Regions from separate parts of the Homo sapiens genome. Here all the other regions are reported to be linked to region 2. The links are microRNA targets in miRTarBase. Many come from high-throughput screens and were not tested one by one. Region 2 holds a microRNA gene; each other region holds the end of a gene's coding sequence.
The links. The annotated mature microRNA hsa-miR-4695-5p reads CAGGAGGCAGUGGGCGAGCAGG and lies in region 2 at 3,045-3,066, opposite strand. An mRNA with a match to its seed (bases 2 to 7 or 8) in the 3' UTR can be bound and repressed. Matches are read on the target gene's strand: a 7mer-m8 pairs with bases 2 to 8, a 7mer-A1 pairs with bases 2 to 7 and ends in A, and an 8mer does both.

Region 1: the mRNA of NELL2 is a reported target of hsa-miR-4695-5p. The part of its 3' UTR that is shown has no 7-base or 8-base seed match.
Region 3: miRTarBase lists JUND as a target of hsa-miR-4695-5p. Seed matches in the 3' UTR shown: 7mer-m8 at 1,666-1,672.
Region 4: miRTarBase lists GNS as a target of hsa-miR-4695-5p. Seed matches in the 3' UTR shown: 7mer-m8 at 1,788-1,794, 7mer-m8 at 1,820-1,826 and 7mer-m8 at 2,863-2,869.
Region 5: the mRNA of BTRC is a reported target of hsa-miR-4695-5p. Seed matches in the 3' UTR shown: 7mer-m8 at 1,640-1,646.
Region 6: the mRNA of OR2A4 is a reported target of hsa-miR-4695-5p. The part of its 3' UTR that is shown has no 7-base or 8-base seed match.

The regions. Positions count from the first base shown.
Region 1 is chr12:44,504,676-44,509,747 of GRCh38, forward strand. It overlaps NELL2 (neural EGFL like 2), which reads right to left. Exons shown (of 20, transcript NM_001145108.2): 20 at 3,603-4,309. The coding sequence ends at 4,259. Among named protein-coding and RNA genes, the nearest start is that of NELL2, 370 kb to the right of the region's middle.
Region 2 is chr1:18,880,206-18,885,277 of GRCh38, forward strand. It overlaps MIR4695 (microRNA 4695), which reads right to left and starts at 3,070; the gene lies at 2,997-3,070. It overlaps ALDH4A1 (aldehyde dehydrogenase 4 family member A1), which reads right to left. Exons shown (of 15, transcript NM_003748.4): 6 at 3,074-3,223; 7 at 2,919-2,993; 8 at 1,495-1,682. RefSeq lists a silencer at 3,924-4,155.
Region 3 is chr19:18,276,341-18,281,412 of GRCh38, reverse strand. JUND (JunD proto-oncogene, AP-1 transcription factor subunit) reads left to right here. Exons shown (of 1, transcript NM_005354.6): 1 at 1-1,719. The coding sequence ends at 972. Among named protein-coding and RNA genes, the nearest start is that of JUND, 2.7 kb to the left of the region's middle. RefSeq lists silencers at 1-312, 893-1,202, 1,633-1,832 and enhancers at 1-657, 1,883-2,092, 2,433-2,512.
Region 4 is chr12:64,712,167-64,717,236 of GRCh38, reverse strand. GNS (glucosamine (N-acetyl)-6-sulfatase) reads left to right here. Exons shown (of 14, transcript NM_002076.4): 14 at 418-3,788. The coding sequence ends at 496. Among named protein-coding and RNA genes, the nearest start is that of GNS, 45 kb to the left of the region's middle.
Region 5 is chr10:101,550,313-101,555,384 of GRCh38, reverse strand. It overlaps BTRC (beta-transducin repeat containing E3 ubiquitin protein ligase), which reads right to left. Exons shown (of 15, transcript NM_033637.4): 14 at 4,494-4,686; 15 at 1-2,230. The coding sequence ends at 4,525. Among named protein-coding and RNA genes, the nearest start is that of POLL, 35 kb to the left of the region's middle.
Region 6 is chr6:131,695,779-131,700,850 of GRCh38, forward strand. It overlaps OR2A4 (olfactory receptor family 2 subfamily A member 4), which reads right to left. Exons shown (of 1, transcript NM_030908.2): 1 at 3,866-5,072. The coding sequence ends at 4,691. All of the region lies in intron 15 of ENPP3 (ectonucleotide pyrophosphatase/phosphodiesterase 3), which reads left to right. Among named protein-coding and RNA genes, the nearest start is that of OR2A4, 3.1 kb to the right of the region's middle. RefSeq lists an enhancer at 4,723-5,072.

The sequences.
Region 1 (5,072 bases), not on the chromosome of region 2:
CACTCAAGACATGTAGGTGTGCTTCCACCTCAGACCTGTGCACACTGTTCCCTCTGCTTGTAACTCCTTCCCTCCAGGTATGAAAATGGCTCCAGGTATGAAAATGGCTCATGCTGTCACCTCATCCAAGTATTTGCCCCAATACTATTTTGTTGTGGAGAGGACTTCCTGTCCAACCAACCTAAATGATCACCCCTCTCCACAACAGTATCCCAAGCCAGCTTAACTTTTCTTCTAGCTCTTATCACCACCTGAAATGGTATCTATTTATTTGTTGATTTTCTTTCTCCTCCATTAGGACATGTACTTTATGAGTCAGCAATAAATGAATGCTTATGCTTTGCACATACTTTGTTCATTATTTTTCTTTTCTTTCTCTATGGCTGTGGTTTTGTGAAAGAAAGAGAAAAAGCCTCAAAAATAAACTCACTATCATTTCTGCTTTTACATAGAATTATACTCTTATTTCAGGCTGCTTTTCTAAAACACCTAACATTGGAGATAAATAAGAGGTCATGTTTTAAATGCAATATATTGGTGGTGGCAGTAACATAGCGTGCCATCCATCATTTGGAATAAATAAAAATTTCAGACTCTGTCATGCAAACAATCTCTGTGAACAATTATTTAATACAAATACAAAGACAAAAGATATGGGGGAGTTGTCCCAGCCTGGCAAGTAGAGAGAATATAAGAAACTGCAACTCAGATTATCCTGTTCCAAACTTCTCCAATAGTTCTATTCCTTGCCTACTTATGTCACCACCAATCCGGAGCTACTGTAGCCCAAGGAATTCCTGACTTTCTACCTGCAGGTCTATTAAGTAAGGGCAATTATTCTGCAAAGAGGTGACAACTCCTTTATGGAAAATGTTGAATTCTAGGGTAGAAAACTGTGCAGTAATGAAATGTCAGTAAGACCACAAGGAGCCAACTCCACTGCAATGGTGACTGCAGACAGGGAGTGTCCAGGTACCACAGTGAACAAAGTGGGTACAGAGCACAGCATCCACTTACTGTCTTCAGGGATGCTTTTGGCATGACTCTCTCAAGAGATCAATTTACTGTTGAGCTACAACACTCTACATTTGAAAAAATGGAAAATAAAAAGTCTTTCTTTAAGAACAGTTGGTATTGTCAATCCTTAAGCTACCTACATCAACAGGACTGGGACCATGCAGGTATCTGTGGGATGTGCCGACCTTCAGAGGAAGTCCTAACTAGTCAGCAATGTGGAGCTTTGATAGATGAGGTCATGCTTAGTGAACTGAAGCTCATATTTTATTCAGTAGATGTAACCTCAGTTTTATTCAACTGAATAACTTCCGCTACTCCAACACTCAAGAGTATTGACTGCTGTTTTAGAGCTTTGATATGCCATTCATTTTGTAAAGGCAATTTACAGGGTGTTTCAACTTTGGCTATAGATAACCAAGTTATGGGAAGGATGAAAGGGTTCCATGATATTGCAGTATAATTGAACAAATGCATGACTCTTTTTACCATTATATAAGGCAAACCAAAAAAAGCAATATGGCAGTCTTTTAAAAAGGGAGATAAACTATACAGGTTACTAAACCAAAGAATCATAGCGAAATATTCTTTTTTTTTTTTTTTTTTTTTTTTTTGCAGAAAAGGGGAAATAAAGAAAATGGAGTAAAGACTATTTTCACCAAGGCCTGCCCTTAAAGGAGCTAAGCACCCTCAAAATAAATTCATGCTTCTTAGCTCTCACTTTCCCTTAATATTGGCACAACTCAGCCATGGCATTCTGCCAATTATCATCAGAGTGAGAAATGGGGTATTAACCTTCCCTTTTTCAAGGAACAAAGTTCTTAAGAAACAATTGATTACTGCTTGCCCAGGGCCTGCACATGAAACAGTAATTCTCCTGGGGAATCTACTATTTGTGGAGTAAACCTTGAAGAAAAAAAAATTCAATCTGAATTCATGTGTTGCTTTAATAGTCGTTGAATTATCATAGTCTTGTATTTTCCTTCTTTTCTTCTTAACTATGAGTTTTCTTTCACTCAGCGGCCTATAGAAACCAAGGATCTGCAAGCCACCAATATGCCCAGAGCCCTACAAAGATTTCCAAAGGATTTGTAATATAAAATTCCAGCCTTGCTTCTCCTTCCAGAAGGACATATCTAAATGACAAATATGTATCTATATGGGTGTATACACACACACACACACACACACACACACTTTCCTACACACATTTCTTACTCTCTTATAAAAATGAGTAAAGTATACTTTTTCAGGAGGATTCAATATGAAATCACAAAGCTATATAAGGAAAAAATAACTTGAAAAAACTTCAAATTAACAGATATCTTCTTGGAAGCTAAATTGCTATTTACCATTGTAATACAGCTGACAAAAAATAAACCTTATGCTCTGTTGAATTAAATTAAATTAAACATAAAAAGGCTACAGAAAAATCATTTATGATAAATTCAGGGAATATAGCTACTTGATTTTACACATTCAATAAATATTACCATGCCAAACTATGAAGACATTTTTGAATTATCTTTCAACTCAGCTCGTGCTAGGTTGTTTCCATAGCAATAGTGAGTGAACAGTTAAAAGCCACTTTATCATTTCTGTAGCTTGCGGTGGTCACCTTGTGTTCATTTTAATTTTTTTTTAAAAAATGCCTCTATGCATCGAAAATTAATTTGACAATACTTATATTTCCTTTTCACCCTAGTGTAAAACATAACAGGGCAATATTGGATTGGCTTCCTTTATTGAGTTTCAGGATGTTTACTTTTATCCCCTCTGACATTCTGGTGCATCAAAATATTTAACATGTAATTAATATCATAATATCTTTTAACATTGATATTTTTAAAAATTTTATATCAAAACGTGAAGGACCAATTCTTGAAGACATTCTCAACCTCACATACTGCTCTCCTTATGTGTATCAGTTAGAATCCTGGCAGGAAACAGATGGCACACTCAAGCTGGCTAATTAAAGAGTATAACAAAGGGACCATTTATAAAGATATGCCTAGAAATAGAGAAAACAAGATTGAACAGTTACCTCCCAAGGACAGAATAGCCAGAGCTGTTAATATCCCTAAGCCAGAAGATGCAAACAGTAGAAGTTATCAGAACCTGGTGAGGCAGTGAGACAGAGAGGAGTACCTTTCAAGAGATATAACCTTCAGTAAGGTGACACACCAAATCATGGCGGTGGCCAGGCAGGAAGGGAGCCAGCGGAATAAATATCCAAACTTGACCTCTTCCTAATATGCCAGCTGTGTTTCCTGCTGCAGTATAATTGAAACCAGACAAGAATCAAGAGGAAAAGGAACCCACTATTAGGGTCTGTATAGGTCAGCCACCCCAGGATGCACAGCAGGGTAGAAAGGGTGAAATTGAGGATCTAGAGAGGAAGAACTAAGTTATCCATCACATCCCTTACTTAGGCATATCATTTTCAATTTGGAAATTTGGAAATAGCAACTTTCAATTTAGAAATAACATAGCAGGAGTTTATCATCAGCAGAACTAGAATGCAATTTTTATAGAATCATCTGTGGAAAAGAGGAACATATTAAACAAGATACTCAGACTCACATGTGTTATAAGGTAAGAGAAATATTTATTTAATTTTGCACAAGAACGAGCTTATACTGAACAAATTCAACCAAATAATATTAAGTGCAGTAAAACAAGGAAATAGGGATGACTTTTCCTGTTAGAAAATATTAAGTAACCATGCCTGTGCATTATTTTTATCATTACAATAACTTGTTTCAGATTTCTTTTCAGAGTGTACTGTACATAACATGTTATAGCTTCTTTGCTTTACTTCTGAAAATATAATTCATTCACTGCCTGACATTTTATTTCTTGCAGTGAGGAACCTAACTGATTCTTGAAGATTCTGATCTAGAGGAAAATTTTCTGCACCAGTGAAGCTAGAGGCTTTCACAGATCCAATGGGCTCAGGCTTTCTATCCAGGGTTCAGGATGTCACGGTATATACTGTACGCCCATTCTTCTACATGGTGATGTGAGACACAGTAGAGGCAGACTTGAGGTCTAATTTTGCCCCAGTAATTTTCCTTTTGTGATTTTGTCAAGCTCCACAAATTTCATAATTGAAAGTTCACTCAGCTATTAACAAAGCTGCATTTAGCTGCCCACAAATCACCCAATTTAAGTTTTAACTTCTTTTTGGTCTTTTAATGAAAGAACATTCTTTTAACAGAAATCTCCCATGAGACAGTTAACTTCACAGTTCCTGAAGGCACTGTGGATCCACTGAGCAACAGATGTGGCCATTCTAGATTTAAAAAAAGTAGAAAGAAAAACAGTATGAATTTTTAAGCCATTAGTAAATGATCACATTTATTGATTGGTACTTACAAACAAAACTGTATAATTTATTTCTGCATTCCTAAAAATTCAATGGCCCAATCACTTTTCATGACTCTACTATTGCAGACTCAATTATTATGCCCATTGTATTTGTGGGAAGTCATAAACTGGCTTTATTTACTCATTGGCATCCTCTGTATCACATTTGTTCTTTCATTTATTTGCAAAATATGTACTAAGTCTATGTAAGCACTAAGTATATTAATAAATAAAGCAGACATGGTCACTAACCTCACAGAGCAGGGTTTGCAGTTTATCTAGGGAGAAAACTAGTAAGTACCATGCAAACATATAATCAAAAATTGTGAAAAGTGCTAGAAAGGTGCTATGAACTAAATGTTTGCATCCTCTTAAAACCCACATGTTGAAATCCTAATCCCCAGTGTGATGGTATTAGGAGGTAAAGCCTTTGAGAGGTAATTAGTGAATGAGGGTAGAGCACTCATGAATGGGATCAGTGCCCTTACAAAAAGATGAGAACACATGCGTCCTCTCTCTCTATCTACCATGTGATACAATGAGAAATGGCCATCTGCAAACAGGAAGTGTGTCCTTGGAGATACCAGATCTGCCAGGGTCTGGATCTTGGAATGTGAGAAATGAATTTCTCAGCCTCCAAAATTGTGGGGAATGAATTGTCGTTGTTTAAGCCACCCAGTCTATGGTAT
Region 2 (5,072 bases):
TGGGGCCTGGAAGAGGAGGTAAGAAGGACCCTGAGCTGCAGACCCGGGCGTCTGGCTGCCTCCAGGCATCTCCACCCAGATAACACCCGAAGTGACCAACAGGAGATTCATCTTCCCCCGAGCCCGCTCGCCCTCCCAGGTGCCCATCTTGAACATTCTCGCTGACAACCCCCCTCATCCCCACACGCACCCCAACCCCAACTCCAGGACAGGCAATGGCCACTGTGCCTCCCTGCATCCTTCTCACCTGAACCTGCCCCCTTCTCCACATCCCCCATCTCTCCCCTGGTTCAAGCCCCTACCACCCCTCCCTGGAGGTCAACAGTCCCTGGCCAGTCTCCTGCATCAGGTCACAGAGAGATCACTGAGAATGAGGGTGCCAACACAGGGGCCCAGAGGAGCCAGCAGGGAAAGGAAACAGCGTGGATCAGGTATGCAGGGAGCCAGAGGGCACCCACCCACTTCCAGCCAGTGGTACCACCAGGAAATGCAAGATCAGAGCATCCAGGTCCAGGGGACCAAGACAGGCCAATATTTGGATTTATCTATGAAATTGTCCCAATTATACAAAGTTGGGCCATCACTGTTAGGAGTCAAAGAAAGTAGAGCCTCTTGCCAGATCCAATTTGGGGGCCATTATTTGCAATCTCTGCCTGACACAGAACTCTGACTCAGCCACTCTCCCTGCTTGAAGCCTTCCATGGCTCCCATCACCTTCAGGATAAAGGCCAGACACCTTTGCAGACTCCTAAGTATCTTATGGTCACTGAACCACTCCCTGCCGCCACCTCCAGCCTGAGAGCCGGGACCTTGTCCCTGGTGTGTGCTCACCACTGAGCCTTAGTGTGAGCTCCAAATTTCCTGCTCAGCCAGTGAGTGCATGGATGGTCGAGATCAGGTAGTGGCCTGCCTCCCCTACCTCAACTCAAACCATGCCCTGCCCTCACTCTCTTGCCCTGTCGCCCCCAAACTCCACACTCCAGCCACACAGGATCCTGCCATGCCCCAGAGCACAAGTTTTTGGCTTGGCAACATTGTATGTGCTATTCCCTCTCCCAACATATATATTCTTCTCCTGCCTCTTCCCCTCTGCCTGGCCAACTCCTCTGCTTAGATGTCACCTCCTCCAGGAAGGCTTCCTGACTCCTCCAGTTCATTCTGTGCTCCCCTGTGCCCTTTCCAGTAGCAGAGGTAGCACTGAAATCAATATTACCCACAGCTGTAGGGTGCACTTCCAGTCTGCGAAGCTCTTTCCTGTTCATTAACATGTTTAATCCTTGCAATGACTCTGCAAATTAAGGATAATCACTCCCTGTACAGGTGAAGAAATGGAAGCTCAGAGAGGTGAAGTGGCTCACTCATAGCCACACAGCAAGTAAGGGAGTAGAGTCCGTGCATGACCCCTGGGTTCACAGCCCCATCCCCAGGCAGACAGCAGGTGAGCAGGTGAACGTCCCCTAGCCACCACAGCCTACACCATCCCCAGGGACTTACGGCACACTGCCTGTGAAGTTGATGCCACAGAGGTGCTCTGAGCTGGTGACAGTGTCCCCAAATAGGGGCCCATCAGCTGGCACAAACTGGATGATGTTGGGGGGCAGGCCAGCCTCCCGAAGGATGCGGTAGACAGCATAGCTGGCCAGCATGGCAGTGTCACTGGGCTTCCATAGGACCACGTTGCCCTGCCCGGGAGGTGTTTCAGTGATGCATGAGGATGGCGCCACCAGCCCCCAACCCCCACCCCACCCTACCCTACAGCATGGTTGTCCCTCACCTGGAACCACCAGACTCTGTGCCAACCAGGACATCCCCTACCCGACCCCACTCCTCCAAGGCGTCTGGCCCTATCTCCAAAAGTCCCTGCCAAGGAGGCCACGGCACAGCCCAATCTGCCCCACGCTCTGGCCAAGGCTCCCTTTCCCCAGAAGCCTGCACCAACCGGTCCTGCCATCACCTAGGCAGGTCTGTTCTTACTGCTAGAGTCACTGAGTGCTCACCGGGCGCGGCGGGGCAAGTACACACGGGCTCTCTCAGCACATGTCCTGGGTCAGGCATGTGCAGCAGCCAGGCACGTGGGCGCCTGGCCATGCACCGTGTTTGTCTGTGCACAGATGCATGAGGACGTCCCCATCCATGTCCCTAGTACACACTCCGGCATCAGCATCCAGTGCCCCTGTCTGGGGCTCGGGGTTCCCGACAACTATGTGGACCTCTCCCACCCAGGCTGTCTGGGAGCTGGGCTGCACCTCCCCCACAGGCCTGGGACTTCATCCAGTAATAGCCAACCTCACTCCGATAATGGCAGAGGAGTGACTTGAATACCATCAACCCCGAGAGAGACTACATCCAAATCTTTCTCTGCTCCATCATTTATTTACTAGTCACTCAGTCTTGCCAAGTAAGTCACGGCTGTGTGTCTCAGTTTTGTCATCTGGCAAAGAGGCAGAGTCACAACTCCCTCTCGAAGCTGCTGAGAGGATGAAATGAGATCATCTCCATGCCGTGCTTGACAGCAGCAGGCACGTGGTGAGCACTGAAGGTCAGCGGTAATGATCATCAACAGAGCCACCAACACTCAGCCAGCTCCGGGCCAGCCCTGCCTGCTGCTGGATGTGTCTCATTTGAGCCTCACAACCCAGTCATGGAGGCTTTCCTATTATTTCCACTTTGCAGATGAGGAAACTGTGCCTCAGAGAAGTTCAGGGATTGCCAGGGTCTCCCAGGCAGAGAGGCACGACGCTGGGATTCAAACTGGGTCTCTGGTCCCAAAGCCTACCCACAGCCCCAAGCTGCCTCCACCTTCTGTGCCTCTCCCCATGACTAGGCTGAGACCCAAGGGGCTCAGGGTGGCCTCTGTCTGTCTGTTGGGACCAGGAGGACAACCAGCTGCCGCTGTCCCACCTGTGCCCACATCTCACCATCAGGGCCGGTGCCCCCGCCAGGTTGCCGCCGATTGCAGTGAAGTTAAAGGGCGAGATGGCCGCCACGAAGCCCTGGGGAAGGAGGCAGCGGTGAGATCAGGCCCATGGCATTGGGCTGCCCCGCCTGCTCGCCCACTGCCTCCTGCAGGTACCTCCAGACCCCGGTACACCGTGCTGTTGGTGCTCGGGGGCACGCTGATGGGCTGCTGCCCCTCCAGCTCCACCGCATACTTGGCATTGAACCGGAAGAAGTCGATGAGTTCCGCTGCAGCGTCAATCTCCGCTTGGATCACGGTCTTACCCTGCAAGGCAGAGGGCCGGGGGTCAGGAGCAGCCAACAGCCTCCTGTCCATCCTCTTCTCACATCTGACGCTGTGCCCAAAGCGAGCACTGAGCCGGGCCCCAGGAGGGACCAGGAAACATTTGGAGGGCTCACCAGGTCCCATCCCAGGGGCTGAGGGGGAAAGGATTCTCAAGCCCCTGAGCTAGCACCTCCTGTAGCCGGCCCTCTGGGCTGGACGGGGATCAGAAGAATTTTAGTGATCCTCTGTAGCAGGCCAGGTACTTGCCATGCACTGTCTTCATTTCATAGCAACTCTGAATGGTGGTGCATGGCAAAGGATCTATGGTCAAGCCTCAGACTAAATTCAGGATCAGAGCCTTCCAGACAGAAGGGCAGATTAGCATGAGCTGGAGATTGGTCACTGGAAAACCAGGAGAGAGACTCGGTGTGTGGGAGGTGGATGGCTCCTTCCCCAGGAATGATGTTCGGCCTTGCTGGTTAGTTTGGGCCAAAAACCAAGAGGCGAGTGACTGTGATTCCCTTAAACCGTCAATTCTTAATAACAGCAAATGTGAGCTGCAGGGAAAAGAACTGTGGACAGCCAAGAACGGGGCTTTTCCAGATTGACGTGGCCTCCTCTTGGCACCCAAGGTCACTGGCAGGTGCACGACCTATTAGAGACACACAGCCCATGAAGCTGAGCTAAGATGTGTACCTTGCTTCCTAGAAGTTCCTGAGTCTTAGGCCAAATACAGAGAAAGCCTAAACTGATCCTAGACTGTCTTCCCAGCAACGTGCGGCTCACCAGGAACACGCAGAGCTGACGCCCACCCCAGAGGGCTGCTGAGCCAATCTAAGAAGGCATTTAGCAGGCTGAGGGGCTGTCATACCAGCTCTGTGCAGCAGAGGGGGCGCTCACCATGGGGACCGAGGAGCAGGCAGTGGCAAATGCCTGATCCAGAAAGCAGCCTGGGTTCTGGCTCCTGCAATTTACCCTTCAGGAACCCAGGTTAGTTGGCAGCGTAGGGCTCAGGTCCTGGAGGTGGTGAAATAACCCTTTCTCCCTCGACTCCTGTCCCCCGCACACTCTGCCTGCTAGAGCCACTCCTCACTCAACTTGCATTTAGCAGGGTGAGGAGCTGTCATGCCAGCTCTGTGCAGAGAAAACCATTGATCAGGGGCTTGCTATGCCTCCTGAAAGGTATCATGCAAAGCCCAGAAAAAGACCGAGAATGTCAAGACATGTTTACTATGTCCAAAAAGCTTGTAAAGGGGCAGTACCTAGGAACTCAATACACTCCAGTGCAATCTGAGCTGTAACTGATGCAGGAACAACATGCTCTGGGGAAACAGAGGCAGGAATAGTCCTTTCGGCTGGAGAAGGCTCAGGAAGTCTCACGGAGGGGGTGACATCTGGGCTGGACCAGGAGGTAAGAGTTCACTGAGCACGGAAGAGACAGCAGGCATTCCAGGCAGGAGGACACGTGGGCAGAGGCAGAGAGGATGCCTGCCATGGCCGGGGAGTCCTGCTAAGTGCCAAATGGCTACACTATGGGCAGGACAGCTTGGCAGGGAAATGCAGAGCAGTGGGCGAGCTGGACAGAGGTGGGCAGAAGGGCCCTGGGTATGGGGCTCAGGTCTTGGGACTTGCCTCTCAGTGGTGGAGAGGTCTGGGTGGGTCATAAGCCAGGAGTAACATCCTGGAGGTGTTGGAAAGACCACTCTGAGGGCGGCGAGGGGCTGACCAAGCTAGGAGGCAGGGAGACAGTGCAGGCCACCACCAGTCCAGGCAAAGCATGACAAAGGCCTAGGAGCGAGGACAGAGGGATGGAGGAGAGGGGACATTTCCGAGGCAGGACACATGGGCT
Region 3 (5,072 bases), not on the chromosome of region 2:
TTCGCGTCCCCGGGCCGCTTGTTCCCCGGGGCGCCCCCGACGGCCGCGGCCGGCAGCATGATGAAGAAGGACGCGCTGACGCTGAGCCTGAGTGAGCAGGTGGCGGCAGCGCTCAAGCCTGCGGCCGCGCCGCCTCCTACCCCCCTGCGCGCCGACGGCGCCCCCAGCGCGGCACCCCCCGACGGCCTGCTCGCCTCTCCCGACCTGGGGCTGCTGAAGCTGGCCTCCCCCGAGCTCGAGCGCCTCATCATCCAGTCCAACGGGCTGGTCACCACCACGCCGACGAGCTCACAGTTCCTCTACCCCAAGGTGGCGGCCAGCGAGGAGCAGGAGTTCGCCGAGGGCTTCGTCAAGGCCCTGGAGGATTTACACAAGCAGAACCAGCTCGGCGCGGGCGCGGCCGCTGCCGCCGCCGCCGCCGCCGCCGGGGGGCCCTCGGGCACGGCCACGGGCTCCGCGCCCCCCGGCGAGCTGGCCCCGGCGGCGGCCGCGCCCGAAGCGCCTGTCTACGCGAACCTGAGCAGCTACGCGGGCGGCGCCGGGGGCGCGGGGGGCGCCGCGACGGTCGCCTTCGCTGCCGAACCTGTGCCCTTCCCGCCGCCGCCACCCCCAGGCGCGTTGGGGCCGCCGCGCCTGGCTGCGCTCAAGGACGAGCCACAGACGGTGCCCGACGTGCCGAGCTTCGGCGAGAGCCCGCCGTTGTCGCCCATCGACATGGACACGCAGGAGCGCATCAAGGCGGAGCGCAAGCGGCTGCGCAACCGCATCGCCGCCTCCAAGTGCCGCAAGCGCAAGCTGGAGCGCATCTCGCGCCTGGAAGAGAAAGTGAAGACCCTCAAGAGTCAGAACACGGAGCTGGCGTCCACGGCGAGCCTGCTGCGCGAGCAGGTGGCGCAGCTCAAGCAGAAAGTCCTCAGCCACGTCAACAGCGGCTGCCAGCTGCTGCCCCAGCACCAGGTGCCCGCGTACTGAGTCCGCGCGCGGGGCGCATGCGCGGCCACCCTCCCCAAGGGGCGGGCTCGCGGGGGGGTGTCGTGGGCGCCCCGGACTTGGAGAGGGTGCGGCCCTGGGGACCCCCCCTCCCCGAGTGTGCCCAGGAACTCAGAGAGGGCGCGGCCCCCGGGGATTCCCCCCCCCCGAGGGTGCCCAGGACTCGACAAGCTGGACCCCCTGCTCCCGGGGGGGCGAGCGCATGACCCCCCCGCCCTCGCGCTGCCTCTTTCCCCCGCGCGGCCGCCCCGTGTTGCACAAACCCGCGCGTCTCGGCTGCCCCTTTGTACACCGCGCCGCGGAAGGGGGCTCCGAGGGGGCGCAGCCTCAAACCCTGCCTTTCCTTTACTTTTACTTTTTTTTTTTTTTCTTTGGAAGAGAGAAGAACAGAGTGTTCGATTCTGCCCTATTTATGTTTCTACTCGGGAACAAACGTTGGTTGTGTGTGTGTGTGTTTTCTTGTGTTGGTTTTTTAAAGAAATGGGAAGAAGAAAAAAAAATTCTCCGCCCCTTTCCTCGATCTCGCTCCCCCCTTCGGTTCTTTCGACCGGTCCCCCCTCCCTTTTTTGTTCTGTTTTGTTTTGTTTTGCTACGAGTCCACATTCCTGTTTGTAATCCTTGGTTCGCCCGGTTTTCTGTTTTCAGTAAAGTCTCGTTACGCCAGCTCGGCTCTCCGCCTCCTTCTTCCCCCGCCGGGGCCTGGCGGGCTGGGCGGGGCCTGGTTCGCTTCCCCCCTACACCCCCGCCTTTCTCTCCTCCCTCTGTCCCTAGCTCCTCCCCTTGTTGGAGGGAGCAGAGAGCGGGTGTCTGAGAGCGGCCCGCACATCTGGCGCGCAGCGAGCGCCCCCTAGACGCGCCTTGGCGCGGGGCCGGCTGATGTCCAGGTTGGGGAGGGGTCTTGGGGTCTTTGATCTGCGTTTGGAACTAGCTAATGCCCCCTTGCCTTTTGGGAAGGAGAGATTTCGAGGTGGAAAGGGCACAGCCCCAGCCCAAAGCAGGAAGGAAGAGACAGAAACTTAGTAAACTTTTTAACCTTTTGGTCCTTGGTTTGCCTGTCCGTATAAAATGGGGAGAACAGTCGAAAAACTTGCCCCATAAAGTTGTGACGATTAAGAGAGTTTATGTTTACAGAGCAGTGCTTGGCTTACAGTGTAAGCTTTTCTCTTTTGGTGGATCGGGGGATGCTGAGGCCCAGGACAAGCTGATGGACCCAGTACCAGGAGGAAGTTGGCACAGGTGGGATCTAACCCAAGAGGTCTGCCTCCAGGACTGGGATTTTCCAAGTATCTCCCTGAAGTTCGCTTCTCCTCCTCCTCCCAACATCCTACTCCCTACTTTGAGGAAATCTAAGGTTCAGAGAGGTTGAGCAACTGGCTTGACATCACACAGCCTTTTAAGGAGACTGTGCAGAGATAGTCTGACCTTGGACTCCCTCACTTTCAGAGCTTTGACCCGAGGCTTCCTGCTTCTCCTGCCTGCTCTGCCCTTTGCTGTTAAGACCCTGCGCTTTGGGCTTCCAACTCATTGGGGACCCTGAGGGATGTGAACATTAGTGGCCGAGGTCACACAGCAAGTAGGGCTGGTGGCCATGTGTACCTAGCCAGCCCTGTTAGGGAGGGCCACTGAATTGTACCCATTTTACAGATGAAGAAACTTGGAGAGAATGGCCACCGTCCCTTGGTCATGGAGAAAGGCCTTGCCACCAACAGCTATGTTGGGGTTCATTTGTTTGAGACAGAGTCTCGCTCTGTCACCCAGACTGGAGTGCAGTGGCGCCATCTAGGCTCACTGCAACCTCTGCCTCCCCGGGCTCAAGTGATTCTCCTGCCTCAGCCTCCAAGTAGCTCAGATTACAGGTGCCCACCATGCTCGGCTACTTTTTTGTATTTGTAGTAGAGACAGGGTTTCACCATGTTGGTCAAGCTGGTCTGGAACTCCTGACCTCAAGTGGTCCACCCGCCTCGGCCTCCCAAAGTGCTGGGATTACAGGCGTGAGCCCCCACGTCCGGCCAGGGTTTGGTTTTTAGCTGTCACGTTGCCTTGTGGGAGGTCATGCAGACGTTTCAGCAGGGCCTGAAGGAACCTGCTGAAGGGAACTGAGGCTGAGGTGGGAGAGCAGGGGTGTCTTGACACACAAGAGACCAAGAACCACATCTCGGGCAGAGTGTCACTGGTTGGGAGACCGGGACCCAGCTTAGGTTCCAGTTGGCATTTGTGAGATCTCAGGCGAGTCCTCCTCCCCCGATGGCCTCTACATCCTGTGCTGTGAGATGCGGGTGTTTGCATCCAGCATAACATCTCTCAGGTCAGAAGTCAGAACTGGGAGGTGCTCAGGGGACGGACAACAGTGACCGCACTCAATGATGGTACCTACTGTGGCCCCCAATTAGTAGAGAAGGGGAAGGGAGGTTTTGAGACTTGCCCAACACCCCTGTTTTTTTTTTTTTTTTTTTTTGAGACAGAGTCTCGCTCTGTCTCCCAGGCTGGAGTGCAGTGGCGCAGTCTCGGCTCACTGCAAGCTTCGCCTCCTGGGTTCATGCCATTCTCCTGCCTCAGCCTCCTGAGTAGCTGGGAATACAGGCGCCCGCCACCACGCCTGGCTAATTTTTTGTACTTTTAGTAGAGATGGGGTTTCACCGTGTTAGCCAGGATGGTCTTGATCCCCTGACCTCATGATCCGCCCGCCTCGGCCTCCCGAAGTGCTGGGATTACAGGCGTGAGCCACCGTGCCCGGCCAACACCCCTGTTAAATGGCAGAGCAGCGATTCAAACCCAGGTCTCTTGCTTGCCTGCCCCCAAGTGGTCTAAGGCGAAAGGACTCTGAGGAGCCCTGCAGAGAGGTGGAGGACGTACTTTGTTTTTCTTTTTTTTTTTTGAGACTGAGTCTTCCTCTTGTCGCCCAGGCTGGAGTGCAATGGCCTGATCTTGGCTTACCGCAACCTCCACCTCCCAGTTTCAATCGATTCTCTTGCCTCAGCCTCTTGATTAGCTGGGATTACAGGTGTCTGCCACCATGCCCAGCTAAATTTTTTTTTTTGAGACGGAGTCTCGTTCTGTCTCCCAGGCTGGAGTGCGGTGGCGCGATCTCAGCTCACTGCAAGCTCTGCCTCCCTGGTTCATGCCATTCTCCTGCCTCAGCCTCCTGAGTAGCTGGGACTGCAGGCGCCCGCCACTATGCCCGGCTAATTTTTTTGTGTTTTTAGTAGAGACGGGGTTTCACCGTGTTAGCCAGGATGGTCTCGATCTCCTGACCTCGTGATCTGCCCGCCTCAGCTTCCCAAAGTTTCTGGGATTACAGGCGTGAGCCACCCTGCCTGGCTAAATTTTTTTTTGTATTTTTAGTAGAGACAGGGTTTCACCATGTTGCCCAGGCTGGTCTCGAACTCCTGACCTCAGGTGATCCACCCACCTTGGCTTCCCAAAGTGCTGGGATTACAGGCGTGAGCCACTGGGCCCCACAAGTTTGTTTTTTTTTTTCTTTACAAGATGAGGTCTCGCTCTTGCCTTGGCCAGAGTGCAGTGGCAAGACCACAGCTCACTGCAGCCTTGACCTCCTAGGCTCAACTGATTGTCCTGCCTCACCTCAGCCTCCCAAGTAGCTGGGACCACAGGTGCACGCCACCATGCCCTACTAATTTTTATTTTTATTTTTTCTTTGAGACGGAGTCTTGCTCTGCCGCCCAGGCTGGAGTGCAGTGGCGCCATCTCGGCTCATTGCAAGCTCCGCCTCCCAGGTTCACGCCATTCTCCTGCCTCAGCCTCCTGAGTAGCTGGGACTACAGGCGCCTGCCACCATGCCTGGCTAATTTTTTTGTGTTTTTAATAGAGATGGGCTTTCACCGTGTTAGCCAGGTTGATCTCGATCACCTGACCTCATGATCCGCCAGCCTTGGCCTCCCAAAGTGCTGGGATTACAGGCGTGAGCCACCACGCCCAGCCGCCCTACTAATTTTTAAATAATTTTTTTGTAGAGATGGGATCTATGTTGCCCAGGCTGGTTTTGAACTCCTGTGTTCAAGTGATCCTCCAACCTCGGTCTCCCAAAATGCTGGGACTACAGGTATTGAGCCACTGTACTCGGC
Region 4 (5,070 bases), not on the chromosome of region 2:
TATGGCTTCTCTTTGGCATTTCTGAATTGGCAGCACCACTACTCTTGTGGTTTGGAGCCATTGTTAAATAAAATCAGGGTGACTTGAACACAAGCACTGTAATAATGTAACAGTTGATCCACCCCTACTCCCTCAAAAGAAAAAAATCTCAAATCTTGCTGCCTTCTGACACCTTTCAAGACTAACCTACTTGTTTTTCTCCTCTTGACTTGCACTGTGTGACTTTGTGTGTGCTGACTGGTGATAGAAATGTTCGGAACTGTCGAGGGCTCATGTTTTGTACCATAGACTTTCTCACTAGAGTCCCTTCTGGTGATTTGTTTCTTTTACACCCCTTCCTGCTATCCTTTCCACTGAATAATATTCTGAGTGAGAAGCTAGTGAGAGCTAATGTTACATTTGGTTTTTCCTCCCCAGATACAGGTTTGACCCCCGTCTCATGTTCAGCAATCGCGGCAGTGTCAGGACTCGAAGATTTTCCAAACATCTTCTGTAGCGACCTCACACAGCCTCTGCAGATGGATCCCTGCACGCCTCTTTCTGATGAAGTGATTGTAGTAGGTGTCTGTAGCTAGTCTTCAAGACCACACCTGGAAGAGTTTCTGGGCTGGCTTTAAGTCCTGTTTGAAAAAGCAACCCAGTCAGCTGACTTCCTCGTGCAATGTGTTAAACTGTGAACTCTGCCCATGTGTCAGGAGTGGCTGTCTCTGGTCTCTTCCTTTAGCTGACAAGGACACTCCTGAGGTCTTTGTTCTCACTGTATTCTTTTTATCCTGGGGCCACAGTTCTTGATTATTCCTCTTGTGGTTAAAGACTGAATTTGTAAACCCATTCAGATAAATGGCAGTACTTTAGGACACACACAAACACACAGACACACCTTTTGATATGTAAGCTTGACCTAAAGTCAAAGGACCTGTGTAGCATTTCAGATTGAGCACTTCACTATCAAAAATACTAACATCACATGGCTTGAAGAGTAACCATCAGAGCTGAATCATCCAAGTAAGAACAAGTACCATTGTTGATTGATAAGTAGAGATACATTTTTTATGATGTTCATCACAGTGTGGTAAGGTTGCAAATTCAAAACATGTCACCCAAGCTCTGTTCATGTTTTTGTGAATTCTAGGCTGGTGCTGCACTGAAATAGAGCAGTAAGCTTGTGATAAAGGCCAATTCCAGGTAGCTCTTGAAGGTGATAGCCATCTACTTTCCAGTGGCTGCCAACCACAGGGAGTGCCAGTTAACACTGGAAGGATTAAGGCAAGGTCCCTTCTCTTGAGACTCCCCTCTGAGATCTGAAAAATGAAGTGGCTTAGGAACATCAGCAGTGAAGAACTGCCAAGAGTTGGTGAAGGTTGTCTCTTCCGAGGGCCTTCTGAAGACAGGGCTCTTGAACAGACAAGTGGAAGGGCTGTACCAGGGATAAAGGAAAGAAGTGCCTGTCCAGCAGGGAGCTTGAATTTAAGTTCCATGTATGAAGTCATTGGCTCTATCTGCATTTTTCTGTCATTCTCTTCATTTGTTTTAAGGTGGAAAATTTTCTTACAGTTGATGCAAAGTATCAACTACTTTACCCTACCTTCTCCCCTTTTAGATGGGTTCTTCCTGAGTTTTGGAGTCTTGTATGATTATCAGTATTCCCCTGTCAAAATCAAATCTATTCAGGTTTCTTCACTGTTGAGAACACCTAAATGTTTTTATTTTTGAGAAGTGGGGACAGAGTCTCACTATGTCACCCAGGCTGGAGTGCAATGGCATGATCTCAGCTCACTGCAACCTTCGCCTCCTGGGTTCAAGCGATTCTCCTGCCTCCGCCTCCTGAGTAGCTGGGATTATAGGCACGCACCACCACGCCCAGCTAATTTTTTGTATTTTTAGTAGAGACAGAGTTTCACCATGTTGGCCAGGCTGGTCTTGAACTCCTGACCTTGTGATCCACCCACCTCGGCCTCCCAGAGTGCTGGGATTACAGGCATGAGCCACCACGCTTGGCTAAGAACACCTAAATTTTTATGTTTCTTGGCTCAAAAACCAGTTCCATTTCTAATGTTGTCCTCACAAGAAGGCTAATTGGTGGTGAGACAGCAGGGGAGGAGGAAGAGCTGTGGTTTGTAACTTGTTCAACTCAGGCAATAAGCGATTTTAGCTTTATTTAAAGTCTTCTGTCCAGCTTTAAGCACTTTGTAAGACATGGCTGAAAGTAGCTTTTCTATCAGAATTGCAGATAGTCATGTTGGGCTAACAGTCAATTGGATATATTCCTTTACCTCACATGACCCCAGCAACTGTGGTGGTATCTAGAGGTGAAACAGGCAAGTGAAATGGACACCTCTGCTGTGAATGTTTTAGAGAAGGAAATTCAAAAAATGTTGTAACTGAAAGCACTGTTGAATATGGGTATCGGCTTTCTTTTTCACTTTGACTCTTAACATTATCAGTCAACTTCCACATTAATGAAAGTTGACCATAGTTATTTCCAAATAAAAAGAAACCAACTCTTACCAGGTCTTGGACTGTGATGTCATATTATTCAGTTTTATGCTTGTTCCTGAGCAGAACTCATAAGAGTGACATAGTCAGCTGCTGACGGCACCTCAGCCACGCCACTCTTACTCAGTTCAGTGGGTGTGCTTGCGTGGTAGGATGTGGTGCAGCCCTCTCTACGCTCTTCTATTTTTGGTATATTTCCTATCTAACCTTCAAATAGCTTCCAATTCTTTTTTTCTTGGACTGGCTTCATTCTGAATTTGTGCTAAAATAATCTTTCATAAAGAGACCTCAGTTTATAGCGTAACAGACTACACAATGCACTGATGTTTTCATAATGTTTAAGGGACCCACTGCAAGAAGCTTGCTGCCTCCTTTTAATTGTATTCATTTAGATTTTGATTTTCCATGTTAAGAAGGTGAGGTCCATGTTGGTGCCCTTCAGAGTAGAGAACCATGTAAACATTAGGAATGAACAGAGGCCTTAGGAATGAATAGAGAGTTTGCCTTATACAATTTCCTGTTACAAAGCTCTCCCTCTCATGCAAAGTAGGGAACACCTTTTGAGCATCTTTGAATTTGACAAATGGTGCTGTTGCAAACACTTTTTTTTTGAGATGAAGTCTCGCGGTTGTCACCCGGGCTGGAGTGCAGTGGCGTGATCTCGGCTCACTGCAACTTCCACCTCCTGGGTTCCAGCAGTTCTCCTGCCTCAGCCTCCCAAGTAGCTGAGATTACAGGCGCCTGCCACCCCACCTGGCTGATTTTTGTAATTTTAGTAGAGACGGGGTTTCACCATGTTGGCCAGGCTGATTAACTCCTGACCTCAGGTGATCCACCTTTCTCGGCCTCCCAAAGTGCTGGGATTACGGGTGTGAGCCACCGTGCCCGGCCTGCAAACACATTTTAATTGACAACACTAGGGCTGTTGTACAAAATAGTAATGATAGCCATGGAAGTTTTACCTTATTCTGTGAGAAGTGTTCTTAAACTTATTAAGTGTCTAAACTAAGGTTTAGTGCTTTTTTAAAGGAAAGTTGTCCCAGGATTCATCCTAAAGAAAGCAAAAGTTAATTCAACTGATCCACCAATGGAATTAGATGGGTAGAGTTGGGTTCTTGAGTTTTACCACCACTTAGTTCCCACTGAATTTTGTAACTTCCTGTGTTTGCATCCTCTGTTCCTATTCTGCCCTTGCTCTGTGTCATCTCAGTCATTTGACTTAGAAAGTGCCCTTCAAAAGGACCCTGTTCACTGCTGCACTTTTCAATGAATTAAAATTTATTTCTGTTCTAGTGGGAATGTGTCCTTTGTTTTAGTTCACAAGTAGTAATTTTGACAAGATGCTTTCTTCTGATGCAGTTTGTTTTAATCACTCACCTAGTACTGGAAATGGGCTTTCTAGTCAGATCCTATAGTCTCTACCTGTATAGCTCTTACATACATGGCCCCTACTGATAACCCCTGAATGAAGCACCATGTAGAAAATATTTCCTGATAAATCTGTATGTATTTACAGCTTTGGAGAAAAAGTCTTATCTTGGCTGGCTTTCAAACAGACTAGGCTCGCCTTCAAAGGTGCTTTGCCATGTGATCCATTGCTCTAGATGAGGAATGACTTCTTACGGGGTCAACAAACTTCTTATAGGGATAGACGGCCAGTATTTTAGGCTGCCAGGCCATGTGTTCACTGTCACAGCTATTTACCTCTGCTGTTATAACACAAAAGTAGCCATAGAAAATGGATAAGTGTGTGGCTGTGTTCCAATACAATTTTATTTTCAAAAACAAGTAGGTCATAATTTGCCAACCCCAGAGCTTATAGGTTGCCTCATATCTTAGCAATTCTGAAGACCACATAGAAAACAATGCTAGACACTCATAAAATTGCCAGATTACTATCAGAAAAACAGGTGATTTGGGCCAGGGGCAATGGTTCACGCCTTTAATCTCGGCATTTTGAGACCCCAGCAGGAGGATCACTCGAGCTCTGGAGTTGGAAGACCAGCCTGGGCAACATAGCGACATTCTGTCACTATAAAAAATATTTAAATTGTAAAACTGAAAAATAATAGGGGATTTGGATATATCACAATTTTAAGGTCATTTATTAGGGTCTGGGATTTGTACCCTTCTTGCAAGCTAATTAAGTAGGTCTGTTATTTCATGAGACTCCTGGGATAAAGACAAAGGACTGTAGTACAGCACAGCAAGCAGTAAGAGCCTGTCAGTTCACACTTAACACCCAAGTCCTACAGGTATGATGCAAAGGGCCCAGAGGGATGCCTGCACATGCAGTGGGTTTTGTTACAGGAAAAGAACATTAGGCTTGGGGAGGCTTCATCCAGGCTGGAGTGCAGTGGCGCAGTCTTGGCTCACTGCAACCTCCGCCTCCTGAGTTCAAGCAATTCTTGTGCTTCAGCCTCCTGAGTAGCTGGGATTACAGGCACACACCACCACACCTGGCTAATTTTTGTATTTTAGTAAAGACGGGGTTTTGCCATGTTGGCCAGGCTGATCTCAAACTCCTGACCTCAGGTGATCCACCTGCCTCGGCCTCCTAAAGTGCTGGGATTA
Region 5 (5,072 bases), not on the chromosome of region 2:
AAAACAGTCTTAGAAACAATATTCCTTCAACTGAACCTAGATTGGAGAGCAAAACCCTGGGCACCAATAAACATTCAACAGCTTCCACTTTGTAATAGCAGCATATGACAGAAAGGCTGGTAAAATTATGGCTATTGGGCAATATTTTGAGACAGCTCGAAACCCATGCCTTTTAAATGTCTGACCTGTGTGTTTTTCAGGGCTGACAGCCCTCTACCTTCATCTATAGCAAAATCCTTACCCAATCAAAAAGCCATTAATAGTCAACACAATAGATGACGAACCCTGATAGTGGCCAAGTAGAAAACATTTCTCTGTAGCATTTGGGTAGCTGGGAAGGGAATTACATTGAGAAAATATTTCTTAGGCTACGATGTATCATTATACTGGGAAATATTTTCTGAATATAACCTTGAACTAAAAGCTTAAAAATACTCATAAAGCAGGAAAGGTAGAATGCATATGCATAAAATGACTCTCAATATGTAGTAACAACATTCAGTGGGTACACCTTGGGAAGAGGATACCTTCTTGCCTGGGGAGACCAGCTGGGTGCACATTAATAGTATTCTGTGTGCTCCCAGGTTGGTGTGGCACAGGTACCCTTGCACCTGAAGCCCACTAGCTTGGCAGCTCACACAGCTGCCTTCCGAGTGACTGGGTTTGCCTGACCCTTGCTGAGGTCCAGCTGTTTATGCTGTTCACCAATCGCCACAGACGCTTTATTGGCTGGGGAGAGTGAAGAGCAAAATAAGGTCAGGAGGAGGAAGAAAAGGCAGTTTTTGCCCCATTAATAAACCCTGTGTGCCAAACTTCACCCTGATCCTCTCTCTTAAGCAGCTTTGCCCTTCTGCAAATACTGGGTGTGGGAGAAGCAGAAGGAAGGTTGTGCAGTGCAAGGTTGACACGGTGAGATCAATATTTGAGAGATGATATTTAACTGGCCAAAACAAAACAAAACAACAAAAAAAACAAAAACAGTGTTTTCTCCTGACCATCTCTCTTAAGCTACCTTGATCACGGTCTTGGCAAAGATACAGGCACCTGGGTATTCACAGGCCCTGATGAGGAAATCGGAGATGGAAACCATTACGCAGAATGCACCAAGCGATTGGCTCTGGCCATTTCAAATCTTTCTGTAGGCTGAGCCTTACCAGTGATTTAAGATGAAGTACAATGCTTTTTATTACACACCCAATTGTTAATGAGAGGAAATGCAATCAGCAACTCCTTTCCACACTCTACATGGAATCAAGGAGACTGCTGAGTCCAGAAAAGATGCAGCCATTGATGGAGCCCAGGAAACTTCTCCCCACCCCCTCTGCCTGCCCCCTACCACCAATCCTCCTCTTGGGTGTGGGGAAGAAAGAGAGAGAAGAGTTGCAAATATGATGAGAGTATCATGTCTGAGAATCCACTGTTGCCACAGGGTCACTTGCAGCAAAGGCCTGGGGCTGAAATCTTCACTGAACAGCATTTAACTCTTCCAAGTGTTGCATTTTCTGGCTGATCTGGCTCATGTGAGAGGAGGACACTCTCTTCGTACACTTTCTTCTCAGGTGAAGCAGACAGAGAAAAAAGGTTGAAGGGGCGTAGGGGAGTAGATGGGAAGAGGAACAGAAACAAAGAGAAGGCAGGCAGGAGGCCCAAATCTTCCAGTGTATACATTCTTGTGTTTTCTTTTTCTTGTCCCAGAGGCTATACAGAGGGAACTCTGTCTCCTCCTAAGCATATTGGGGCTGGGCTGCTCTGGCCAGGTGCTTGGCATTCCTGCAGTTAACAGGGAGACACTGGGCACTGGGCTTGAAGCTGCATCCCCCATACCCTAGAAGTGGGTCTCTCCCAGCAGGCTATACAGGGAAACTAGTTCTTCTGCTTAATGGCAAAGCAAGAGAGATTCTGGCAAAACACTAAATATATTTATAAGTCACCTTTGTCTGGAACCAATGGGAAAAAACTAGGTGCAGAGGTGAAAGGAGGAGAGGAGGGGAGGTTTAAAAGTTCCAATCATTCACAAAAGATAGAAGACATCTTCTGATAGCAGCACTGAAGCAGTCAGTTGTGCTGAGTAGACCGTCCTGGGCCGACTGCAGACCAACTGTGTCCCAACAGGAGTCTCAAAGCCCTGCTCCTCGGCTAGTCCAGGGAAACTGGGCAGTAGTTTGATTGTTACTGTTGTTGCTCATCCTGGTATTGGCAGATACGTTAAATACCGCAACTTTAATGGGTCCTGTGTGAAAACAGAGCAAATAGTCATTAGCCCCTTTTTTGATATTTCTTACTTGCTTGAAGACAAAAGAACATTCACTTAGCTGCCAATGGGGAAAAGGCTTAGGGGTCCTTCCTAATGCCTGCTCTCTGCCTATGCCATGCAGGAGCTTCTGTCAAAGGTGACCTGGCCTGATGGGGGAAGTTATACTAAAGGCAGGGCTTGCTGACATGCTCAGGGCTGTGGTGTTCAAGCAGAGTGACTCTGATGTCTTGAGGCTGAGAGTGCCCACGGTTGGCATAGCTTTCACTTGCCCTGTAGAATGGCAGGGCAGGGGTGGGGGATGGTCTGTGGGCCCTGCCTTTTGAGTGGCCATGAGCATGGCGGTGCCAGTAACAGAAGTGGGGGAATCAAGGAAAGCTGGCCTGGCTGTGTGGCTGCAGGGTACCAGCAGTGTAAAGGAGGGGACAGTGCAGTTGAGGATGTGAGCACTAGAAGTGCTCTTGCTATCTTCAAGGACAGCTGTGTGGATGGCAGCTGGAAATGTGGCCTGGAGATTAAGGCAGAGGCTTGGACTGGAGACAGAAATTTGAGTCTTCTACAATGAGATGAGATCTGAAGCCTTGGGAATAGAGAAGGCAGCCTAAGAAGGAACTCAGATAAGGAAGAAAAGCCAGAGACAGGCCGGGTGCGGTGGCTCACACCTGTAATCCCAGTAACTTTGGGAGGCCAAGGGAGGTGGATCACTTGAGCTCAGGAGTTCGAGACCAGCCTGGGCAACATGGTGAAACTCCATCTCTCCAAAAAAAAAAAAAAAATACAAACAATTAGCTGGTCATGGTGTTGTGTGCCCGCGGTACTCAGGAGGCTGAGGCAGGAGAATCACTTGAGCCCAGGAGGTGGAGGTTGCAATGAGCTGACATTGTGCCACTGCACTCCAGCTTGGGTGACAGGAGTGAAGCCCTGTTTCAAGAAATAAAATAAAATAAAATAAAATGAAATAAAATAAAATAAAATAAAAATAATAAGAAAAGCCAGAAACAGACTCTTGGGAGTGAGGGGGAAAGAAGCACAAATAATCAGAGAGTCAGGAAGAATATTAAAAATGGCAAAGTAACACGGAAGTCTAAGGAAGAGAAAATTTTGGGCAAAGGAGGGGGTAGGTATATGGAGATTGCAATATTAATACTCATGACCAGTTTTTCCTGAGGGCATATTATGTATTCGCCACTGTGCTAAGCACTAGGAATTTTCCATGCAGTATCTCCACACAGCCTTCACAGGGTTCCGTGAGGTGAGTGCTGCCCCTCACGTTACTCATCAAGAGATTCAGGGTCTGGGAAGTTACTTGTCTAAGGGCACACAGCCTGTGCGACCTGGCTGAGGAACGACGAACCGTGTCCTCTGTGAGAGAAAGAGAAGCTGAGGACAGCCCAGCTGGGCGTGAATCACTGTCCTCAGCGGAACACTGCAAAGAGAGATGCAGAAACGTGTAGCGAACATGTACTTCCGCCACGAGAACTGAGGCACACGTGGCAAATCCTGACAGCAACGCTCCTCAGCAGCTAGGGCAGCCTTCTCAAACTGGTAACAACCTAGTGTATTCGAACTGGTTAGAACAGCAGGTATGATCTGAATATACCACAATATGTATGGACCACCTGGGTATTTTAGGATCTTCCCCTGCCTGAGAGAGAGGTTGGAGACTTGAGTGGGAGGACATGTGGAGGTCAGAGGTCAAAAGACAGGTCCTCTTTTTGGAGGGTTGAGGAATAGGGATAGGGATATAAAAGCTACTTTTTATATTCCTTTTAAAATCTGCCCTTTTATTTATATGTCAGTGTGAACTTTCACCAAGAGATGTTTCCATTCACACATTAGACATCAGACTGTTTACTTGGCTTGAAAGGTCTCTATTGTAGGTATTGTTTGATCTGGGAACTTAAACATCACAGGCCTTTGGGTCATTACAGTACTTAGTTTTCAAACTGATTCAAATCTCATTTTATTTTCATAACAGTACTACTAGATAACTAGGGCAGGAATGACTAGGCTTACCACACAAGTAGGACCCTAGAATCATCTAGAACTGAGGCTGGCTACCTTGGTGAAAGGCACTGTCCACACTGTGGCAGCTTCAGCCCTGTCTCACATTGTCTGCTTCCTCGGCTTTACAGGAGTTGGTGACCCAAACGGCAGGAGAAAGTTCCATGAACTAGCAACACCTTACAGCTAATATCCCGTCTCCTACCCACAGTGTTATGTACATAATCGATTTCGATACCTGGGCAAGTATGAGGTCAGTGTATGGTTATTTATCTGGAGATGTAGGTGTATGTTCGAGAAGGGGAACGGGGGGGTTCAGCTTGGGCAGCTGGATCATTTAGGAAGTCCCAGATGAGGATTGTGTCATCATGTGAACTACTGACAATCTGGAATTCATCAAACTGTAGTCGAAAAACTCTTCCGGAATGCTCCTAAAGAAGTAGAAACAAAAAGGGTAGGAACTTGAACTACTCAAAATCAATAGGACACAAATTCAGCAACATGTCAAAAGGAGTCTACGGAAAGGCTATGGTTTGCTGTTATAAAGAGGCCAGGCGCAGTGGCTCACACCTGTAATCCCAGCACTTTGGGAGCCTGAGGCATGCGGATCACGAGGTCAGGAGATCGAGACCATCCTGGCTAACACAGTGAAACCCCATCTCTATAAAAATACAAAAAGTTAGCCGGGCTGGTGGCATGTGCCTATAGTCCCAGCTACTTGGGAGGCTGAGGCAGAAGAATTGCTTGAACCTGGGAGGTGGAGGTTGCAGTGAGCCGAGATCACTCCACTGCACTCCAGCCTGGGCAACAGAGTGAG
Region 6 (5,072 bases), not on the chromosome of region 2:
GGTGGCGTGTACCTGTAATCCCAGCTACTCGGGAGGCTGAGGCAAGATAATTGCTTGAACCTGGGAGGCGGAGGTTGCAGTGAGCCAAGATCGCACCACTGCACTCCAGCCTGGGCAACAGAGCAAGACTCTGTCTCAAAAAAAAAAGAGAATCTAATCTGATTAAATCCTGGGTTCACTCTCTCCAACTCTTAAAACACAAGCCTCCAGCTACTTATTTTCTAGTGAAAGTACATCATTTTTAGTAATAATGTGCATCATTTGATAATTAGGTTAGGTCCCCTTTGTACAATTAAAGCAAATTTCAACAGTTTGTATAATCCATTTTCATCATCATCATCTTTATTTTACCTAAAATGTGTTAGATCTTACTAATTTGGGGAAACCTGATGTTTTGATATAGTAGAAGTATTAAGTGCTTTTTTAAAAGAACATGAATGTTAGCTTTTAATTTTGGATCAGCAACTGACAAATAAATTTCAGGCACCTTTTTAAGAACTAGAGATAACCAACAAAGTACCTGACCAAAGGATCTTTGCCCAGGTAGGAAGATAACAGCTATAATCAGATGGGATAACTATTGCACTAGAACCACGTACAAGGCTCAAGGAAGCAAAAATTACAGACCCAGGTGTGAATGTCAAGGAGCATCAGAGAATGCTTCCTGGTAGGGGTGGTTGCTGATCGGGGTTTGGAAGACTTATGATGGGATAGGATACGTGTTGCCATACAGCAGGTCTGCCCTGTGCAGTCTGTCGGTTGTACAGTGGCATCCTGCCAACAAGGTGAGTGGGAGTGGAAATGGAATCTTTGCTCAGCTCACCAAGCCTTAACAGGGGCTGCATTGGCAGGAGGAAGGGGATTCGTTTTTTGTGGTTGTTGTTGTTGTTGTTTTTGCCAAAAGTGCCATCTGCTTGCCAAGCCTTGAACACTGCCAGGCCGCGTCCTTCAAAGGCACCTTTTTTTCTCTCAATGATCTACCCAGAGCACCTTTTTTTTTTTTTTTTTTGAAATGGAGTCTCGCTCTGTCGCCCAGGCTGGAGTGCAGTGGCGCGATCTCGGCTCATTGCAAGCTCCGCCTCCCAGGTTCATGCCATTCTCCTGCCTCAGCCTCCTGAGTAGCTGGGACTACAGGCACCCACCACCACACCCAGCTAATTTTTTGTATTTCTAGTAGAGACGAGGTTTCACCATGTTAGCCAGGATGGTCTCAATCTCCTGACCTCATGATCCGCCCTCCTTGGTCTCCCAGTGCCGGGATTACAGGCGTGAGCCACCGTGCCGGCCTGAGCACCTTTTTAAAGCCAGCAGTAGCTCTAGGGCAAGGAAGGGTAAAGAGAAGGAGGCAGGTTTCCAGATGGAAGAACTAGATTCCTGCAGTTGCAAGTAGTTCTGCATTGCTGGAGCACTGAGTGTATGAAGCCATCATGTGTACAAAGGACCTTGTCTGAAATGACTAAGGAGTGTGACTTTGATCTTGAAGAAAGTAGGCTGTTGGTAGATACAGGTGGCTTGAGGTGAATATAGGGATATTTGCTTTTGGAGAGGTCCTTCAAGATGCTACATGGACGAGGATGGTCTAGCGCAGTGGTCCCCAACCCTTTTGGCACCAGGGACCGGTTTCATAGAAGACAGTTTTTCCAGGGTGGGGGCGGGAAGGGGGGGTGGTTTCAGAATGATTCAAGCGCATGACGTTTATTGTGCACTTTATTTCAGTTATTATTACACTGTAATAGATAATGAAATAATTATACAACTCGTTATACTGTAGAATCAGTGGGAGCCCTGAGCTTGTTTTCCTGCAACTAGATGGTCCTATCTGGGGGCGATGGGAGACAGTGATTGGTCATCAGGCGTTAGATTTTCGTAAGGAGCATACAACTTATATTCCTTGCATGGGCAGTTCACAATAGGATTCACCCTCCTATGAGAATCTAATGCCACTGCTGATCTGACAGGAGGCGGAGCTCAGGTGGTAATGCTTACTGACCCACCACTCACCTCCTGTTGTGTGGCCTGGTTCCTAACAGGCCACAGACAGGTGTGGGTCCATGGCCCAGGGGTTGGGGACCCCTAGTCTAGTGTGAAACAGGGAAGCCTGTTAGAAAGGTATGTAGTGACCCATTCAGCCCCAAGGGAGCCCATGAAGCCATGGGGATGGTGAAACTATATAGTGCATCACCGGGAAGGTATTATGGTTAACTTAGAAGCCACAGTTTCTAGGATAGTCTTGCTTTTATCATATTCTGTCTGATGTTTGTTCTCATTAGAACATAGATTTTTATTTCCAGCAGTGTTAAATAAGATTAGGGGTATGTGTGTGGGTGTGTGTGTGTGCGTGTGTATGTGTTTTGAAGGGAAGATTCAGAAGTTCTGAAGGCAGGATGATCAATTTGGGAAATTGTTCAAGGGGCTTATTAGAACCTACCTGAAGGGAACGTTTTTCTAGGACACAAAACACCGGTGCAAATCCACTGTTGAAAATGTTCTCCAATGTCTATTGTGAAATGGAGAGATTTTGAGTTCAGCTCCTTTCGGGAGGGGAGGAAAGAATCCTCTCCAAGGCAGCTTCCTCTAGCAGTTTCCTGCCTCTTGTGGGATGAGAAGATTTGCTGTCTAAGATATTATCATATTTATTTGTATTTTGCTGAGTTCTTTTACTGGATGTAAGGCAGTCCAAATGTTATTTGGAAATCTCCTATCAATCAATCATGCAATTTAGATAGAAGTTAGTTCCATACAGTGTGATCTCTGACTTGCTAAGGTTTAGAATAAACTCAAAGGGCAATGTGGCACAGTTATTAAGGTTTGAGAGTATGCCCATCTGTGCTCTGACTCTACACATCCACTGCGAGAAGAAACATCCATATAACACCAAAAACACTATATGAAAATCTTGTTGCACAGTAGGCCACCCATCAATATTACAGCTTTTCTTTTTCTTTTGATGTTCCAGGTGACCTGCAGGAAATGTAGAAATCAGGAAACTGACATACAAAAGAAAAAGTTAGTAGCAAATGGAAACAACTTTATAAAAATATAATATGGTATATAGTATAAAAATTATACTACAGTATACTTTTTACTTTATAAAAAGTATACCATAAAATAGTTTTAAAACTATTTTTATACTATATAAATAGTATAAGCAGTATAAAATAGGCTGGGCAGGATGGCTCATGCCTGTAATCCTAGCACTTTGGGAGGCCGAGGCAGGTGAATCAACTGAGGTCAGGAGTTTGAGACCAGCCTGGCCAACACGGTGAAACCCTGTCTCTACTAAAAATACAAACCCTGTCTCTACTGAAAATTAGCTATGCGTGGTGGCACATGCCTGTAGTCCCAGCTACTTAGGAGGCTGAGGCAGGAGAATTGTTTCAACCCAGGAGGCAGAGGTTGCGGTGAGCCGAGATTGCACCACTGCACTCCAGCCTGGGCTATAGAGCAAGACTGTCTCAAAAAAAAAAAAAAAAAAAAAGGATAAAATAGTTTTAGGACATAGTTTTATATCTAACATGATATGACACTGAGTTATTGTGTAAAAAGTTATTTTAAAATATAAAAGTAAATTCTTTGAACTAAGACAATGAGAAATTAAATATAAATGTTTAAGACCAAACTTAAACCTAGAAAAAACATCATCTCAAAATGACATGTTTCCCATGGCATAAGAAGCTGCTACAACTTTTAAGTGTGTAGGTGGTGGATTTTGAAATCTTTCTAGATTTTTCTTTCTTGAGAAATCTGGGTTTATCTTGAAAACCCTGAATTAGAAAAATTAGATTGATTTCATTCAGCGGCAAACACAGGAAGATGTATACTGAATCATATTTCTTAAAAATCTCAAATTTAGAAGATTGTGAGGTTGAATGAGGTCATCTCCTGAAGCTTCTATAGCAGGAATGCCGATCCATGATGAAGGACAGGATTGCATTTATTTTCTTTAGATGATCTACCATTGAACAGTAGAGACAGGGTCCCTCACGGTCTGTATCCAAACAGAACCCGGATTTTTACAGACTGATCGAGGCATAATGCTCAGAACTACATCTCTTTAGAGGCTCACTTTGCAAGGAAAAAAGAAATCATTCTGCCCTAGAAGGGGGCTGTAGGAAGTATTCACAATGAGTCAATTAATATCAAGATCTCCTGTTCCAGGAAACTGTTACTAAGTATTACAAAGGAAATTTTATGTGCTCACATAAGTTTAGAAAACACTGGCTTAAAGCTGGTATAGAATTATTCTTTCCTAGAGAAATATTTACAGCATTCACTATGCTAATATGAATTGTGATCCCTAGACAGAGGCATCTGATGTGAAGTAAGTCTCAAACTTATTTGACTATAGAACTTATTTTTAAAGTCCTCTGAAGGGACCAGTGTTTTGAGGAAAACATTATGGGAGGTATGGGACTGGATCAAAAGCTAATGAGGATATTGTAAGGGGTATTGTCCTGGTGTGGAGTGGCTGCAGCACAACTTGAAGAGATCAATTTCTAGAATTTCATCCCACATCTGCTGAAATCAGTCATTTAAAGGTAGGGCAGGAGATAGCTCCATTTTAAATAAATGTCTCAGATAATTCTCATGTCCATTGAGGGCAGAGGTCCCACCAGTGCAGAGATGGGTTAAGAACCGCTCAATGATGTAACTTCCTAGGTCACTGTCAGTCACAATGCCATAATCCTTTTCATAAAGCCCTTTCTACTCCCAGCACTCTCTTCAAAGTATTCTTCACTTCTGAGTTCCTAAGACTACAGATAAGGGGATTGAGCATGGGATTAAAGAGGCTGTGAAACAGCAGGAGATATTTCTTCTGCTCCTTGGGGTTCCCATATCTGGGTCCAACATACATGATAATGGCTGTGCCATAAACGAGTCCAATCACACAGAGGTGGGAGAAGCAGGTGCGGAAGGCTTTCCTCTGAACTTCCCTTGATTGGATCTGAAGGATAGCACAGAGGATGCACATATATGAAACTACAATTGTGGACAAGGGTCCCACCAGCCCAGAAATTGCTCCGGCCAAGACCATGTTCTCATTGATGTGGGTATCTGCACAGGCAAGTTTG